Linked DNA regions of Homo sapiens: region 1 is linked to region 2. The links come from fine-mapping of genetic effects on gene expression. A gene starts in region 2. The other region holds a variant in brackets. All regions are shown on one strand. Distances are from middle to middle. Region 1 has its middle 220 kb from the start of MIR548AG2. Region 2 holds the start of CDH4 (cadherin 4).

What was found. PIP is the estimated chance that this variant, and not a neighbour inherited with it, causes the effect.
Region 1: its variant is fine-mapped to the expression of CDH4 in esophagus muscle (GTEx, PIP above 0.99).

What each region holds. Positions count from the first base shown.
Region 1 is chr20:60,782,517-60,790,842 of GRCh38, forward strand. No RefSeq gene overlaps it. Among named protein-coding and RNA genes, the nearest start is that of MIR548AG2, 220 kb to the left of the region's middle. The variant A/G (reference allele first, on the strand shown) is at 4,901.
Region 2 is chr20:61,247,814-61,256,139 of GRCh38, forward strand. It overlaps CDH4 (cadherin 4), which reads left to right and starts at 4,448. Exons shown (of 16, transcript NM_001794.5): 1 at 4,448-4,757; 2 at 7,013-7,124. The coding sequence starts at 4,701. RefSeq lists an enhancer at 6,552-7,244.

The sequences.
Region 1 (8,326 bases), 470 kb before region 2:
CTCGTCTTCTTGCTCTTGTATTCATGCTTTCTTCTTCTTGGAACTTACTTCCCTTGTTGAACTTCTAGAGAAGTGATGGTATGGCAGCTTGAGTTTGGTGTCAGAGCGTGCACACGTGTGTGGCGGAAGTGTGCAGGTGCCTGTGAGCAATTAGCTTCAGTTCCACAGTTGGGAACGCCAGTGGGTGGCACAGGTGTGGAGCTGCTTTCCATTCCTGCCTGGCCATCCTGGGTGTGCCTGGACTGTGCAAGCTCTGATGACCTGACTCTTACCCTGGAGTAAGACAGGTCTGCTCCTAGCTGGACCCATGGGAGGGGCCCAACAGCCACCTTGTGAGACAGCTACAGCTCTGGACACAGGCTCAGTCCCAGCAGCTGCTCTTTACCCACACACAGACACACAAACACACAGAACACACACACGGAAACAACATACAAACATGTAGAATACACATAGGCATAGCATACAAACATACATATACACAGACACAACATACAAACCTACAGAGCATGCTCAGAAACAAGACACAGAGACCCAAATACAAACACAGACACGCAAACACACAGAACACACACACAACATACAAACAAGTAGAACACATAGGCACAGCATACAAACATACAGATACACAGACACAACATAGAAACACACAGAGCATGCACAGAAACAACACACAGAGACCCAAATACAAACACAGACACACAAACACACAGAACACACACACAAACAGCATACAAACATGTAGAAGGTGCAAAGACACAATATACACACAGAACATGCACAGAAACAACACACAGAGATACAAATACAAACACAGACACACAAACACACAGAACACACAGAAACAACATGCAAACACGTAGAATACACATAGGCACAGCATACAAACATACAGATACACACACAACATACAAACACACAGAGCATGCACAGAAACAATACACAGAAACACAACACACAATACACATAGCGTGCACAGATGATGCAACACACACACACACGGATACAACATAGAAACACACCTGTGCCCTGTGCTTGCTGCCTCACTGCCTGGAACGCGCTTCCCCGGGTCTTTGGATGCTGGTCTCCTCTTATCAGTTAGATTTCAGCTTCAATGCTTCCCCTCAAAACCCAATGTTTCCCTAACTGCAGGCCCCCTAACACCCCCACCATACTCCAGCGCAGTCTCTGTTCCAGTCTCTTACCCACTGCACCCCTCTCGGACACAACAGTAGCCGTCACAGCTGCTCCTTCCTTCACAGCTGTTTCCTGGCAGCCCAGGACACAGGCCCTTCCCATCAGACTTGAGGTTCTTGTTCACACCCATATATGTAGTAGGTGGTCCATAAGTATTTGTTGAATGGATGAATAAATAAAATGGGAAAAATTTTTAGTGTATCAATTCTGCTCAGTATTGTACTGGAAAATACCTACCGAACAATTTGGAGGATTCTTTAGAAGATGTTAGAAAACCATTCCGCTATAAAAGCAAAAGGCCAACTGCACTGAAGTCCGAATCTTAACTTTAAACCTGTCATTCTTGCTGGTGCCTCTTTCTTCAACCAGAACACTCTACTTGACACTCATCTACTTAATTGAAAAGCATTCAGGCCCCTGCGTTATTAGCATTTGTTGCTAGTATAATCTCCTTCTACACCAACACGAAATTTGTATCAAATCCTGACAGCAGGTGAGGTGAGAAAAGTTTCTTATTGAACGGCTTGACCACAAGCCTGTAGAGAATTGTAGAATCTTGAAAGCAATAAATCAAAACAGCAATCAGGTTCTGCACACTCTAACGACAGCAGTAACAACAATGATAAAACAGCCCGGTGTACTGAGTACTCACTGTGGACAGGCACGGTGCAAAGCCATTTGTGTTATGAATTCACTTAATCTCGTTCCTAAGTCCATGAATAACTGCACTCCACAGATGAGGAAGTCCAAGCGCTGAACTTTTAAGCGATGTCCCGGATGCCGCAGTCAGGAAGACGTACACCTGACATCCAACCCAGCAGCCCAGCCCCAGAGCCTCTCCAGATGTCATGCCGTGAAATGCTTCAGTGACTTCTGGACTGGTACAAAGGAAGGTACACTGAATATTCGGAGAGAGCAATCGTTGCATAAAAAGCTGGGCAGCTATTTTTATTGCCAAAACACCTGGATGAAAAGGGGAAAAAAGAGACATGGGGACTGCCATCTGGACACACTACTGATGTTTATCATGACCTCCATATTCTGTGCAGATGTGTCTGGCTAATGGATGTCGTGGAGACACAGCTCTCAAAAAGAAAGACAGGGGAGCCTCTACCTCCTCATCTGGATCCACAAAACAGCCCCAGTGTGATGAGTGCACCAATGCTGGCCACCCTATGAGCACTGTCAGGAGCAGCTGTGGGGCTACCCTGAGATGTCACTTACAACATTTAAGGTGGCTCTTAGCTTTCTAAGTTGAAAATGAATTAAACTTTCTCAGTTTTCTAGACATTTTATTACAAGAAGAGTTTTGGAAAAATCATGTGTGGGGGTTGAAATTTGGTTTGAAAGAAATTAAAAGTGTATGTATAGGAGTTTAACGAGAAATCAATTATTCTAACCAAGAAACTTTGAGTCCTGACATGTCTCAGCATCGCCAATTGTTATGTGATATTTTTACAGACATGGAATCTAAAGGCTGGAAGGAGTTTGAACATCAAGCTATTCATCTACAAAGATCAAACTGATTTCTTCTGACTTTTCACTAAGGTGTCGCTGAAATAAGATTTATCAGGCTATCAGTTTTGTTATTTCTGAAAGGCATTGCAAAACATCCTTCGAGGATCTGAATTAATTTTGCAATAATGAGATCATATCAGACTATATATCTGATATTTTAGATAACACTGGCCAGTGCTTTTGGTTATGTTGTCATTTTTGGCTAGATAGTAACATGTATTAGCAAGGCCAAAATGTGAATACATTTCACAAAAACACACATTCTTAGCCCTGCTCCTCTAACTTGGAATAATTTTCATCTCAGTGAGATATTGGCTAGGACTTTGATTCCAAAACAAGTAAAATTGAAGCCTATTTCTCTTTTCCCCTCTGTTCTTTATTTTTTTTCTTTGCTGGAAAATCTGTTTACATCTTTTTTTTCTTTTTTGAAACACTTTTCCCAAGAGATCTCAATTACTACTAAGAAATTTTAACTCAGTTTCAGAGCTGAAGAAACTGTCAACACAAAAAAAGATTTTAATGATCACCTGGTTGCATTTAACATTCACAAAAAAAAAGTCCCTTGTTTGGGAAACTCACAATAATTGAAAATATACAGTTTTTAAATTATGCATGTGCTTCTGACACTGGTGCTGTAAGGATAAAAAGCATCCACTGAAGCACATTTTTTTACTACACCGAACTGGAAACATCGTAATTCTAGGCAATCACAGAACAGTTGTGTAGTTCACACGCAGAAGCAGCTGTGCTCATGCTCAGCCCTTGGAGCTGTTCCCCCACCACGGGGAGGAGCTCAGGAACATTGAGTGCGACCTCAAGATGAAGGACGGGACTTTGGCTGCATTCTGTGGAGAGCCACGCTGGGGGAGGTCACATCCTCCTCCTTATCCACCAAACATCCTTCCAGCAAGACCAGGAAAAGTCAGGAGACCACTCAAAAAAGGATGAAAAACCATCTCAAACAATGTCAGCAAGACAGGACCACTGTGAAATTTTCAAAAACGACTTGTGATCCCAACTCCTGGCTGAAACCCCCGCCCTGGTCACGGCTCTGCGCTCATCCTCCATGAGTCTGTGGCTGTCATCTATAAAGTGGGCACAGCAGTCAATTCGCCGGCCTGTAATGATGCCTGAGGTTAGGTACACTGAGATATTTGTAAAGCATCCCCAAATAGTCATATTCAAGTTATTATAACTATTAATAATAATAAATAATTGTTATTGCTTTTATTCACATTCATTGACGTTTCCCGTGCCAGGCATTGTGCTAAGCATTTTATCTGGAATCTCTCATTCATTCCCCTGGGGCCCTAAGAGGCCTCTGATTTCAGTCCTACAGACTTAAAAACGGGGAGTTAAGGGCAGCTGGGTGGGCAGGGATGATCTGCCAGCTCACCTTCCCAACCAGCTGCTGGGTGCTGTGAGCAGGCAACCTTCAGTCATCACCCTCTTCCAGGGCTGCCTCACAAGCAGAGAGCTTCCTCACTCACACACCTTCTGGGGCAGCCCAACTAAAGAGGAATGGATGCAGAGGCATAAAGGCATTGCCTTCTCAGCCCCATGCCCTGTAATAGGCTGCTTCAGCTCCAGAGCTCCCGTGCGGTCAGCTGGGACTGCTGGTCAGGCCACCGCAGTATGATGACGAAGACCCTCCTCAACCTCCTCCTCCTCTTCCCTCTTCCACCTCCTCCTCCTCCCTCCTCCTTCCTCCTCCCCTTCTTCTTTTCTCCCTTCCTCATTCCCCCTCCTTTTCTCCCTTCCTCCTCTCCCTTCCTCCTCCCCTTCCTTTCCCCCTCCTCCTCCTCCTTTCTCCCCTTCCTACTCCTTTCTTCTTTCCTTCCACCACCCTCTTCCCTCCTCCTCTACCCCTTCCTCTTCCCCCTCCTCCTCTTCATCCCCCTCTCCCTCCTCCTCTGTCCTCTTCTCCCCCACCTCCCTCTTCTTACCTCCACCCCCTCTTTAGGTATAGATCCCAAGGGATCTATATATATTATATATATATGTTATATATATTTTGATATTATGTCATTATTACAAAATTAATTCAGATCCTTGGAGGATGTTTTGAAATGCCTTCCAGAAATAACAAAACTGACAGACTGATAAATCTTATTTCAGTGGCAGGCACCTTAGTGAAAAGTCAGAAGAAATCAGTTGGATCTTTGTGGTTGAATAGTTCAACCCT[A/G]ATAGTCATCCTGCTCCATGCCAAACCCCTCTCTGTATCCTCTCCTCCGGAATGCAGCTGGTCACAGTGTTTAGGAAACTTGACAAAGCTCACAGAGCGAGTGAGTGATGGCCCCGAGATCCACACCCACATCTCCCTGACCTTCATATTTTTTCTTCCTCCCTTCTCCGCCTTTCCCTCCCTAAAACTTTTGGAAAAATCATAGCTCATCTTCACATCTGTCATACTTGTGACAACTGTTCAGGCTTTCTCCAAGTCTAAAATTATAGAATTCTTTGAAAGAAAGTATTCACGCAATCAAACTTCACCAAATTAGGAGACCGTCAGTGTTAATTAGCAAAAATTCCAGATTATAAAATGCCTCTAGATGTATGTTCTTTTTTTTTTTTTTTTTGAGCAAATATGTCAAGCTTGTATAGCAACTAAAGGAAAGAACTAAAAATAGAAGTCTTTTTTGTTCTGCAATCTGATGACCACAGTAACCTTAAAAACAATTTGTTCTTCTACAGAACTCAACATATATTTTCTACAGTCACCCCTTATTCACAATTCATCTGCTGAACAATCTTTAACAAGGAAAAAGGAACCTCCCTCCTGACCCACGTCTGAATGTTCACAAATTATCATGTTGCCAGAATCAGAATTAAGTGATTCTCCTTCATTTGCCATTTTTCCCTTATTTTCAGGTTCTTCTTTCCTCCACATTAAAAAAAACCCACTTTTTGTGATATGTCGATATGTCTACCCATCACCTCGTCTTTTCAAAGCCCTGGAGATCCCCAGTCACTCTGGGAAAAGAAGAAGCCCCTTATTAATCTGAGCTATTTTAGTGACAACAAGCCTGAATGTTTTAAGATAGACACCATCAGATCCAACATAATGCTGTCAGTTTTTCACGTTCAAACACTTCATCTTCAGAATATCATCTGCATGCCTTAGGGAAAAGCCCATATACTCCTGGAGGTATAAACCCTACCCTCTGGGAGGTGCTTTACCCAGGAAGAAGCCTGAATTCTCCAGTCAGCTTTCTGACCTCCTCAGCCTTCTCTCACAGCACAGCCTTGCACACAGTTCCAGCTTCGGCCACGCTCTGCTAATTGATCTCTTTTCTGTATTTGTTTTTTGATGAGATGAGTAGAAATGGCAATTCACTGTAACAGTAGTAAGTTTTTTAAATCAATAAGGAATCCCGCTGTGTGCTAATTTGGAATAAATAACAAAGCAAATGGGACATGATCTCGGCTCCCAGAGAACCTGCAGTGAGGCAGAGGAAAACGGACCAAGGCCTGCCCTTGCTGGGACTTGTCTGAGCATCTTCTGAGTGTCTCAGCAGTAGCATTCACTGGTTCTGTGCAGTGGGTGCCCTTTGATGCCCACTGTATGGGGTAAGGAGTGAATTACACCTGCATTGCAAATGACTCCAATACAAAACCCATAGTAGATAACTCTGTGAATTATTAGTGAGTGAACAAATGAGGGAATGAATACGGGAAACAGTTTTTCACAATGGCAAGAGCATAAGTTTGAAATGGACCAGCCCACACCTGACTAGGTTGCTGTGAACTTGAGCGGCATGATTCATTCTGAGCCTCAGTTTCCCTTCATTCATGCAGCAGGAACTTTGTCCCTCAGAGTTGTTATAGGAAACCTATATGATGATGTACAAATGTTTATTGAGTGCTGGCTGTGATCCAGGGTCTGAAGTAGGAACTGGGAGCACAGAAGTCCCTGTCTTCATAGGGTTTAATTTTCCCATTCAGTGGAACAAAGCAGATAATAAATGAGCCAAGTTCAGTGGGACATAGTAGATGCTCAAGAAATGAGCCACATTGGAGGCCAACTCAGGAGTTATGGTGGAAAGCTTTTTGTGACTTAGGGCATGAAGTTCAAGTTCAAATTGAACTTCAAAACTGGGCAGCATGAATATCAGTGGCAAGAGCTTGCTGGGTGGAAGGAGCATGGTGAAAGGCAGAAGGTAGCTGGAACATTTAGGGTGCTGTCCAGATGTAAGGGGTGATGGAAAATAAAGTCAGGGAGTTGTCACTGGTCAGCTGTGGAGGCCTGATCCCCTGGGGCGTAATTTCATCCACTACTGGAGGCACTGAGGAGCCTAAAGGGGTTCACCGAGTAGGGACATTACAGAAGCCACTTTAAGGAGATGACGCAAGAACCCGCCCTCAGCCTGGCTTGAAGGTAGGGCAGACTGCAGACCACATTCTACATAAGAACGCCTTTGAATTAGATCTCTTTGTGTTGCAAGTGACGGAAAACACAGCTTACCCCGGCTTATGGAAAGACATCAAGTATTGGCTGATGCTATCGACAGCATCCAGGTGTTCCAACGATGCCAGTCGGAATCCATCTTTCCTCATCTTTCAGCCTCGTTTCCCTCAGCATGACTTCACTTTCAGATATCGTCACAGGACAGATGGCAGCAGCTCCACGATGTCATCCCCAGAGCTCAGCAAGCCCCAGGAGAGAGTGGCTTAAACCATGGCTCCAACTGGAACCTCCAGTGAGGCCCGTGTGGCCCAACTCAGCTAAGCCCATGGCCAAGAGGACACCGTGGTCCAGTGGGTAAGAGCTTGAGTCAGGCATCCTCCTTCTGAGCTGGGTGTGGAGGAAACTTCATCTGCTTCATAGACTGAGAATATGGAATGGTGCAACAGAGTACAGAAGGGGCATTACTACAGCAGGAAAGGGCATTACTGGTGTGTCCGGAGTTTATTCCATCTGGTGGGTTCGTGGTCTCACTGACTTCAAGAATGGAGCCGCAGACCTTCGCAGTGACTTACAGCTCTTAAAGACAGGATGGACCCAGAGAGTGAGCGATAGCAAGGTTTATTGTGAAGAGCGACAGAACAAAGCTTCCACAGCGTGGAAGGGGACGGACTGGGTGGCTGCTGCTGGCTGGGGTGGCCAGCTTTTATTCCTTTATTTGTCCCCTCCCATGTCCTGTTTCTGTCCTATCAGAATGCCCTTTTCTCAATCCTCCCCATGATTGGTTAGTTTTAGAATCCTGCTGATCGGTCCATTTTACCGAGCACTGATTTGTCCATTTTACAAACCTCTTGCTAGCTACAGAGCACTGATTGGTGCGTTTTTACAAAGTGCTGATTGGTGCATTTTAAAATCTCCTTGTAAGACAGAAAAGTTCTCCAAGTCCCCACTCAACCCAGGAAGTCCAGCTGGCTTCACCTCTCACTGGGAGTCTGGAAACAGTGCTGTTAGGATGTTACTCACTGAGAGTACAGAAGGGGCATTACTGAAGTAGGAAAGGGCATTACTGGGAGTCTGGAAACAGTACTGCTGGTGTTACTCACAGAGTACAGAAGGGGCATTACTGAAGCAGGAAAGGGTGTCACTGGGAGTCTAAAAACAGTGCTGTTAGGATGTTACTGAGAGTATAGAAGGGGTGTTACTGAA
Region 2 (8,326 bases):
TTGAATTTTTTTCCCCTTGTGAATTGCATCTCCTGCTCCATGGAAATTTCCAAAGATTCAAAGACCCCCAAGTCCCAGGGGAGTGAGAGAAGCAGCCTCACCTGGTTCTTCCTCAGAACCCAGAGTGCATGGTGTGCTTCTTTGGAGCACAGTCATGACTAAGGCTGTAAGTCTGAACTCAGCCAGCCCTGGGTTCCAGGTCAAGCTCCTCCCCTCTTTTCATGCCTCAGTGTCTTCATCTGTATAATGGGGGAGTGCAGGAAGTACCCCAGGGTACAGTGCAGCCAGTGGGGGTCATCGTTGGTATCATTGCTTTATGGGTCCACCCCCTGGGGGCTCCTAGAGGGTTAGAGCCTGGGCCACATGTGGAGAGGGGAACACCCTGTTCCCCCACCCTCAAGGCTCTCGGAGTGGCCAGAGGGCGGACACACAGAAAGGAGCTCCACCACACTGTGAGGAGAGAGGTGTCCACCAAGCCCTGCAGCAGCTAAAGCCAACACAGTGCTCCGAGAGAAAGGAGCTCCGGAGGGAGCAGCAGAGGCACAGGCACAGAGCCTGGATGGGGGCGTGTGCTTCTGGATGGACTAGAGGGTCAGGATTCTGCTGGTGGCGAGTGGGCCAGGCTGAGCATGAGACTGGAAAAGGAAAGAAGACAGCCCTAGGTTGGAAGGGGACATTTGCATCTTTCCCCCTGGGATTTCTGCTTCCAAGGGATGCACCTCACAGCCATGCCCCCAGGTCCTAAGTCACGCTGCCTGGAGTAGAATCTCAGCCCACCCCGTGCCGGCGGGTGACCCAGGCCAGGCTGCTCACATACCCAAGTCTGTCCTGTCTGTGGACCATGGGCATCACCACCTCCGTCCTATGTGAGGATCGCATGGGATCATGACTGAAAACCTTCGACACAGTACCTGCCACACAGTACATAGGGATCCCTGTTCATGGAGAAAGATAGATTTTGAAAAACCTACAACAATAACTCTATTCCTTTCTTTATTCCCAGTGTAGCTTCACCTCAGCGGGTGAGCGTTATTGGAATGGAAGGCAGGGAGCGATCTGTACTGGTCTCTCTGCTGCCTGCTCGCCCCTCTCAATCTCTCCTTTGCTTTTTGCTTTAAGATCGCTCTTCTCTATTGCATGCAGGGAGTTTTCTTGAGCTGGGTAGCAGGCTGATTCCATTCATTTCTACAGTGCCTTGAATATCTTCAATCGCCCACAAAGACAATGTTTTATTCTACGAACACACCTTTTGCCAACATCTCACTGCTTTCTGTACAAAACAGCCTTTTTGTCGAACATTGAAGTGTCTACAATAATAACTATCAATAGGGAAGGAAACAAATTAACATCCAACGAATATAGGGAAATGTGGCCCTGATACAAGCACTTGGTTTTTGCTTCTAAAGAGGAACCCCTTCCCAGACTCACCTCATCGAGAGGGAGACAGAGAAGTCTATCAAGCTTAGCAAACATCTGTAGTCCAATTACTGTCAACAGTTTACAGGTGTTGAGAGCAAACAGTCACTTATACACTACCTCCCAAATGCATTCTCTTAATCTCTCTTAGAAACAAACGCACACATTTTTCTAGGGCTCTTTATCCAAAGTGCAGAGAGACTAGCTCCTCCTCCAGGCCAGCTGTGGTCTTCCCTGCACTGGGTGGACCAAAGGCAGGCCACAGTCCCACTGGCCAATGTGCCAAACACTGTGCCAGGGTTTCTCCAGCTACCCCAGGCAGAGGCCCAGGCTCCACCCCTGGAGGTCCAGGTTCTGGAAATCCAGGGTGGGGCATAGGAGAGAGCATTTTTCTGATGCTTCCAGCTGCTGCTCTGTTACGTGGGACATACTGTCTGTGGGACAGGCCGTGATTCTCAAATGCTAGTGGCATGAGCATGGACTGGAGAGATTGTTACAAGGTCAGCTTCCAGGCCCCACTTGCAAAAGCTCCAAGTCCATGGATTTCAGGTGGAGCCTAGGAACTGGCATTTTTCATGAGTTTCTCTGTGATTTTGTTGCAGATGATTGCAGACCAGAGGTGGGCGTGGCGGGGAATCCCATCAGCATTCAGAATCAATGTAGCAGGTCTGGGGTAAGGCCTGAGTTTCTGCATTTTTAACAAGCTCCTGGGGGATCTTGATGCTGCTGGTCTGGGGACCACACTCAGAGTGACAGGCTGAAGACCATTCTTTGGAGGCACTGCTTTGTATTTTAGGTCATATTTTTCTTTTCTGTCTCAGCAATCTTTGCTGCTGCATTCAGAGTAAGTCTGATAAACCAATGCTCTCTACTGGACTCCTGTCAGTTACTGCAGTGTTTCTGAAACTATGTATTTCGGAAAATGCGAGTTCCCGTAAGACATTACAGCTGTGTAAGAAGGTTTCTTTGAACAAAGTTGGGGCCATGCTGCGTGTGCCAGGGTCCCAGCTCTGGGTGAGAATGCTGGCACTGCAGCTTTCCCCGTGCCTGCCCTCTGCACCCTCCTCTGCCTGACTGTATAGTGGAGTTAGAAGGACTCCAAGAGCAACTTTACATAAAGCTCCTACACATGTCCCTGGCACATAGCTAGCACCTTGTAAGGACAGGCTATTGTCAAACTCTACCCTTTCTGGAAATCACGCTGCAGTAGACTCAAGATTCATTCAGTAGTAGAGGGAGATGTGCTTAACACAGTGTTTGGAGTTCAGGACCCACCTGCTCCTGGACCCCAGTCTCCCTGCCACACACTCATACCTTTTCTTTTTCAAATTGGCGCGCTCCTCAGCGCTTCAACAGTTTCGCAGAGCACGTTGGAGCAAATGCGGGGGTCTGTGATGCCTCTCCAAAGAAATAACTCGCATAATGCTCAGGCCTCCTGCAGACAAAGGTGTATCCCCAGCGACAGATATTTTAAGAAAATAGACCAGGGACACAAGACAAGAGAGCTGTCTTGGTGTCTAAAGCAGTCTTGGACAGCTTCTGATGTCGCTCGAGCAGTGGTGAAGCACCTTGAATAAGGAGGAAAGCAGAGGGGGCGTCTTCCCAAAGGACGGGCACATGGCCGAGGAATGGAATTCTCTGTCCATGAGGATTTTGGATGGATCTGTTCATGAAACCTCACTGGCTACGCAGGACCTTCGAGTGAGTCTAAACCTCCAGCCATGTCAACTGGTAACCTCTCCTTCTTCGGCTAGGTGGGGAGTGGGACAAGGCCATAACTGATAGGAGTCCAGGCTGGGGCAGATTTTGTGTCTCCTGACTAGTTCCATAGTTAAGTTGCAAAACCGAATCTCGCCTTGTGCTCTCGGATGTAGTGCTTACTCTGGTCCTCTGGGGTTATCTAAAATCTGGTTTCCTTAAGCGTAAGGCAGAGCTCTAACCGGGAGACCACCCTGCCCCCAAGGGTGGGGGTTCTGGGAGGGAGAGAGGGAAGCGGCTGCTCTGTAGCTTTCTCTACTGGCTTGCCCAAGTGGACTCTGATCTTGGAGCTCAACAGTGTCACTCAATCTTCCACCCTCTCCTTTGCAACCTATTTCTTAAACCAGAACTAATGTATTCTGGACACAGAGTCCCTGAAACCCCAGACAAAGAAAATTCGATGTATCTGAACAAACAAAACCGCGTTTCTTTAAATCTCCAAGCCAAAAGGAAAAGTGCAGAAACATTTACTCACTGTCCGACCTGTACATATATTTTACCTGATAACCCTTAAAGAAGTGCCCCCCAGTTCAGCCATCACCCATGCAGGGCAAAGGGAGCTGGAGCTGGCCCAGCCTGTCGGCGCAGACACTCCTGACAGCTCCTGTCTGGGCACTTCTTTCTTTCTTGGAGCTTCTAATTTCTTTCTTGGCTTCTGAGGCCTAACAGGGTGTTTTGATGCACACACAGGAATTACTACCGTCCCCAATCCTAGGGTACATCCCTAGCCCAGGCCAGGGCTTTGAGTTTTCCTAGGAGCGGGAGGGTCTGCAAAGCCCCACAGGCTGAAATCTCAGCGTGGCCCTCTGCTCATCTGCTCCAGGTGGAAACTCTCACCCCTGAGCTGCCCGACCTGGGTTCAAGCCCGGGTCAGGGGAGTTAGCAAGGAGACACCTGAAAAATAAAAGGACAGAATGGAAGTGCACACTCCCACCGCGGGCCCGGGCGGGAAGTCGGACTAAGACCGCGGCGGGACCGCCCCATCCAGAAAGGGTGCCCCGGGTGTGGGGGCGGAAACCCCAGCGCTGTCTTCAGTCTCCACACCCGCGCCTTTTTCCCCTGGAAAACGAGCGTCCTTGGCCTCTTCGGCCGCAACCGGGCGGCTCCAGACGTCCAGGAGGGCAGAGGCTGGGCTGGTGCGGCGCGGGGGGCGCGGGCGCGGGCTCTGCGCCTTTAAGGCCCGCGTCGGCAGAGCGAGCGCAGGGGCCGGGCGGCGGGGCGGGGCCTCGGCGGGGCGGCCGCGGCTTCACCTGCAGCTCCGAGCGCGCGGAACAGAGGCGCGGGCGGCTGCGAGGCCGGCGGACGCACCGGCCCGAGGGAACGCGCCGCCGGCCGGACTTGGCCTGGCTCCCGGAGCCGGGGCGGCGAGCGCGGCGGGCGCAGCGGGGCTGGAGGCTCCGGGCAGGCGCGGGGGAGCGGCGGCGGCGGCGGCGATCGGAGCGGCGGCGGTGGTCTCGGCGGCGGCGGCGGCGGCGGCGGCAGGGAGCGGGCTCCCGGTGCCGGGCACCGGGCGGGCGGCGGGGAAGATGACCGCGGGCGCCGGCGTGCTCCTTCTGCTGCTCTCGCTCTCCGGCGCGCTCCGGGTAAGTTGCCGCCTCCCGCCCCCGCCGTTCGGAAGCCCCGGGCAGCGGGAGGTCGTCCCCGGATCCCGCGGGGCGCTCACACACCCGGCGGGGCTCTCCCGGGCTCCCCCGCCGCGCTCCCCGCTGCATCCAGCCCGGCGCCCGCGCTCGGCGAAGCTGCCTGCGGTCGGCAGGAGCGGGAAGCCGCCTGGGCAGCGGGGAGCGGCGGAGCAGGGTGGGAGTGGGGCTCGGTGGAGGACCCGGGGAGCTCCGCCTGCACCGGACCCGCCGAGCCTCCCTCGAACGCCCAAAGCCCGTAGCCGCTACCCGGAGCTCGGCTTGCCTGCATGGGGCAGGCTTCCACTGGCGGAGCCGGCGCGCCCTCCATCGCCCGGGAGCCGCGCGCCGCGGGAGTTGCCGAGCCCAGCCCCGGCCGTGGCTGAAGGCGTGGGGCGCCCGGCGGCTGCGGGCCAGGGATCCGCGAGTGCGGGGCGCCTGCCCGACCTCTCCTGCCCAAGGCCTGGGGGTCCGTCTAGCGGCGCCGCTCAGTTCTGTGGGTGCCGGCAGGACCCGCGCTGCGGGTGGGCGGCGGGGTAGGACTGCGGGGCACTCTCACCCCCGAGCCCTCGGCGGGGCTGGAGCCTGCGTGTCCGGCGGGGCCCCGGGGGCTGGGAGCTGGGCCGGGCTTGGGCCGGGAAGCCGGACGCCGGGCGGGCGCGGCGCGGGAGGGCGCCCCGGGAGGGCGAGCGGGTCTCCCGCTGCCTCTGCAGAGCCCCGCGGGCCGGATTGCCAGCTTTGCTCTGCGCCTGGCGAGGTGCGCGGCCCGCGGGGGCAGAGAGCGCGGCGGCTCCGGGGGCGCCCCTGGGCGGAGGCGGAGGGGCGGCGGGAGTTGCAGGAACCCCCTCTCGTGGCCGATCGGCCTCGCTGCCTTCTCCCGGGCAGCGCTGTTGTAACCTCGGAAATAAACAAGTGCCAGCGGCGGGAGGCCCGCTCCGAGGCCGCGGGGCGCTGGGGGACGCGCTGGGCACACGCTTCGGGCGGGCGGAAACTTTCCTGGGCGAGTTGAGCCTCCCACCGGGCTGCGGGTGCGATTTGGAGCTTCGTGGCCGATGAAGAAAGCCGCGGTTTAGAGCTTTTCGTAAGGAATGACCCTGCGTCCCGCTCTCCTCCCTCGGTGCTGGGGGTAGAGGGGCGCCCTCCGCGGTGCCGGCGTCGGGAAGCCTGGAGCTCCGGGCTGGGGGCGGCCTCCGGAGTCGAAGCATGGGCGGGCGACGGCAGCGCGCGGAGCTGGAGGAGGCGGCGGGCGGGAGGCGCCACTGCCCGGTGCGGGCTGCACCCGAGGCTTCCTGCGCTCGCCGGGGAGCCAAGCACCGCTGTGCTCCTGCTCCTTCAGCGGGGCTGGCTTCCCGCTTGCACACACTGCCTCTCCCTCCACCACCTCCTCCTGCCTGTCACGCCCCCTCCCAGAAGCTTGGTCGGAGGGCCCTGTCGTCCACCCCATCCTTCCCTGGCCCTGTGCCATGGGCTCTAGACTTCCCCACTGAGCAGGAAAGGCGAGCGAGCTCCGGAGGACAGGAGGAGACCCCCTTTCCGGTCAGTTAGGGGAGCCGTCTCCCTGCCTGGGCTGGAGATGGGGGCTCCGAGGGTGAAAATGCGGGCTGAAGACTAGAAGGTGGAAGCGCCCCCACTGCCTCCTCACCCCAGCCACCGGCAGCCTCCCGCAGAGCTGCCTTCTTCGACCGGCTCCGGACCTAGTCCTAGAGAATCTTCTTCCTTTCTCTCCTCTTTCTCCTCCCTCCCGGTGACCTGGAGAGGAGACAAGAAGCTGCCTCCTCCGCCTTACCAAGAGCGCAGAGCGGTGGGCCTAAAGCGCGAATGGTCTGAGCAGAGCCGCCCACACTTTGGCCTCCCTGCCCTTAGTGGCTTCGGGAGCAGCGGCTGAAGTCTTCTGTCTCTGCCTTTTGGTCATTTCTCAGGCGTCTCCTCTGCCAATAAGGCCCTGGCCGGCCTGGCTTCCCCAACAGTCCGTCCTTCACTCCCTGCCTGCTGTGTGTGGGGCTGGGGAAGGATGCTCCTGGTCTGTAGCCTGGAGAGTGCTCCCTAAAGTCCCCAGAGAGCAGAGGAGCAGACGGGGTATCGCGTCTGGGTGGAGACGGTGGCCTGCCAGCCTTTCTCTCTTAGCCAGAGACCTTTTACACAGCAGGCCCTGGATGAATGTTGGTTGGATTAAATTTCTGTGAACTTATTGTTTTACACTCTCCCCTTTGTGTTCTCAGGCCCATAATGAGGATCTTACAACTAGAGAGACCTGCAAGGCTGGGTTCTCTGAAGATGATTACACGGCATTAATCTCCCAAAATATTCTAGAAGGGGAAAAGCTACTTCAAGGTAAGGCGGGGTGTGGAGGGGTGGGAGTGAATTGCTGCCATGCTTTTCCTTGGGGAAACATGTAGATGGGAGAGGCAAGGCTTGCCTCATCTTTGTGCTCTCTGTGAAATGATGGTGGTGAAGTCCACGAGGTGCAAATTGGTTGACCTGAAAGGCGTTTTGCATAACAGGTGAATGATTCAGAACCCCGGTCATTTTTGAGTGAAGTGAATCATTTCCTGGGCAGCAAACTGTAATTCGGATGTAACATCACCCAAATAGTGTGCAGAGAGAGACCTTCTTACCAAGTATTTTTATGCATGAAGTTCTGGATACTTAAATTATCCCTGCTTTGAAATGTATGATAAAGCAGACGATGTTGTTGGAAATGCGGTAAATAAGCCCACAGACGGTCTGTTCACAAATGTGGCATTCATTTTCATTACTGCCCCACTGACAACACGAAAACACACATGCAGGAGGGAACTACCAATTAGCTTTATCGTAATTGCAGGATTATATCCACACTTGTGATGGGAAAGTCAGAGACAGCTTCAAAACTCAGATGACAGTAGATCATCCTGCTTATTGGTCTGTTTCCCTTTCAAGACAAACTAATTAGACTTTATATTTGCATAGGAGGGGACATAAATCAGTTCTGTGCCATGAGCACCTTGGCTGTGAGCCTTTCCTCTCTGCATCAGTTTCCTGGAAGTGGCAGCCTTTGAATTGATTTCAAAGCGATAGAGGAAGAGGACTTTTGATAAAGTATCGAAGCTAAATTTCCACATTCAGGACTGTTGACTGCCCTACCGGTTTTGTGTCCCAGGGAATGTAAACTTTTCCCTCCAGAACTGACAGCGGTTCCTGTGTATGTGTGTGTGTGCATGCATGTGCGTGAACTCGCTCACGCTTATAGTGAAGTGATTTTTCAGATCCTCGCCCTTCAAGACAGAACTTGTTGACGTGCCTTGTTGATTCCTGGTTATGTGGATAGGATTTTTATTTTGCACCGAATCCAAGTTTTCTGACTTAGTTTTTTTATCTAAACTGTGATACTACTGACTCATTAATCATCAAAAAAATAAAAAATCTCTAGGCAGTCGGCCTAGGAGCAGAATAGATGTGCAATCTAACAGGGCATACATAGTAAAGAGCTTTCAAGAGCTACTCTGTTAATTGCACTGTGTATGTCACTTTGGAGTTAGAACGGGTAGGCCATT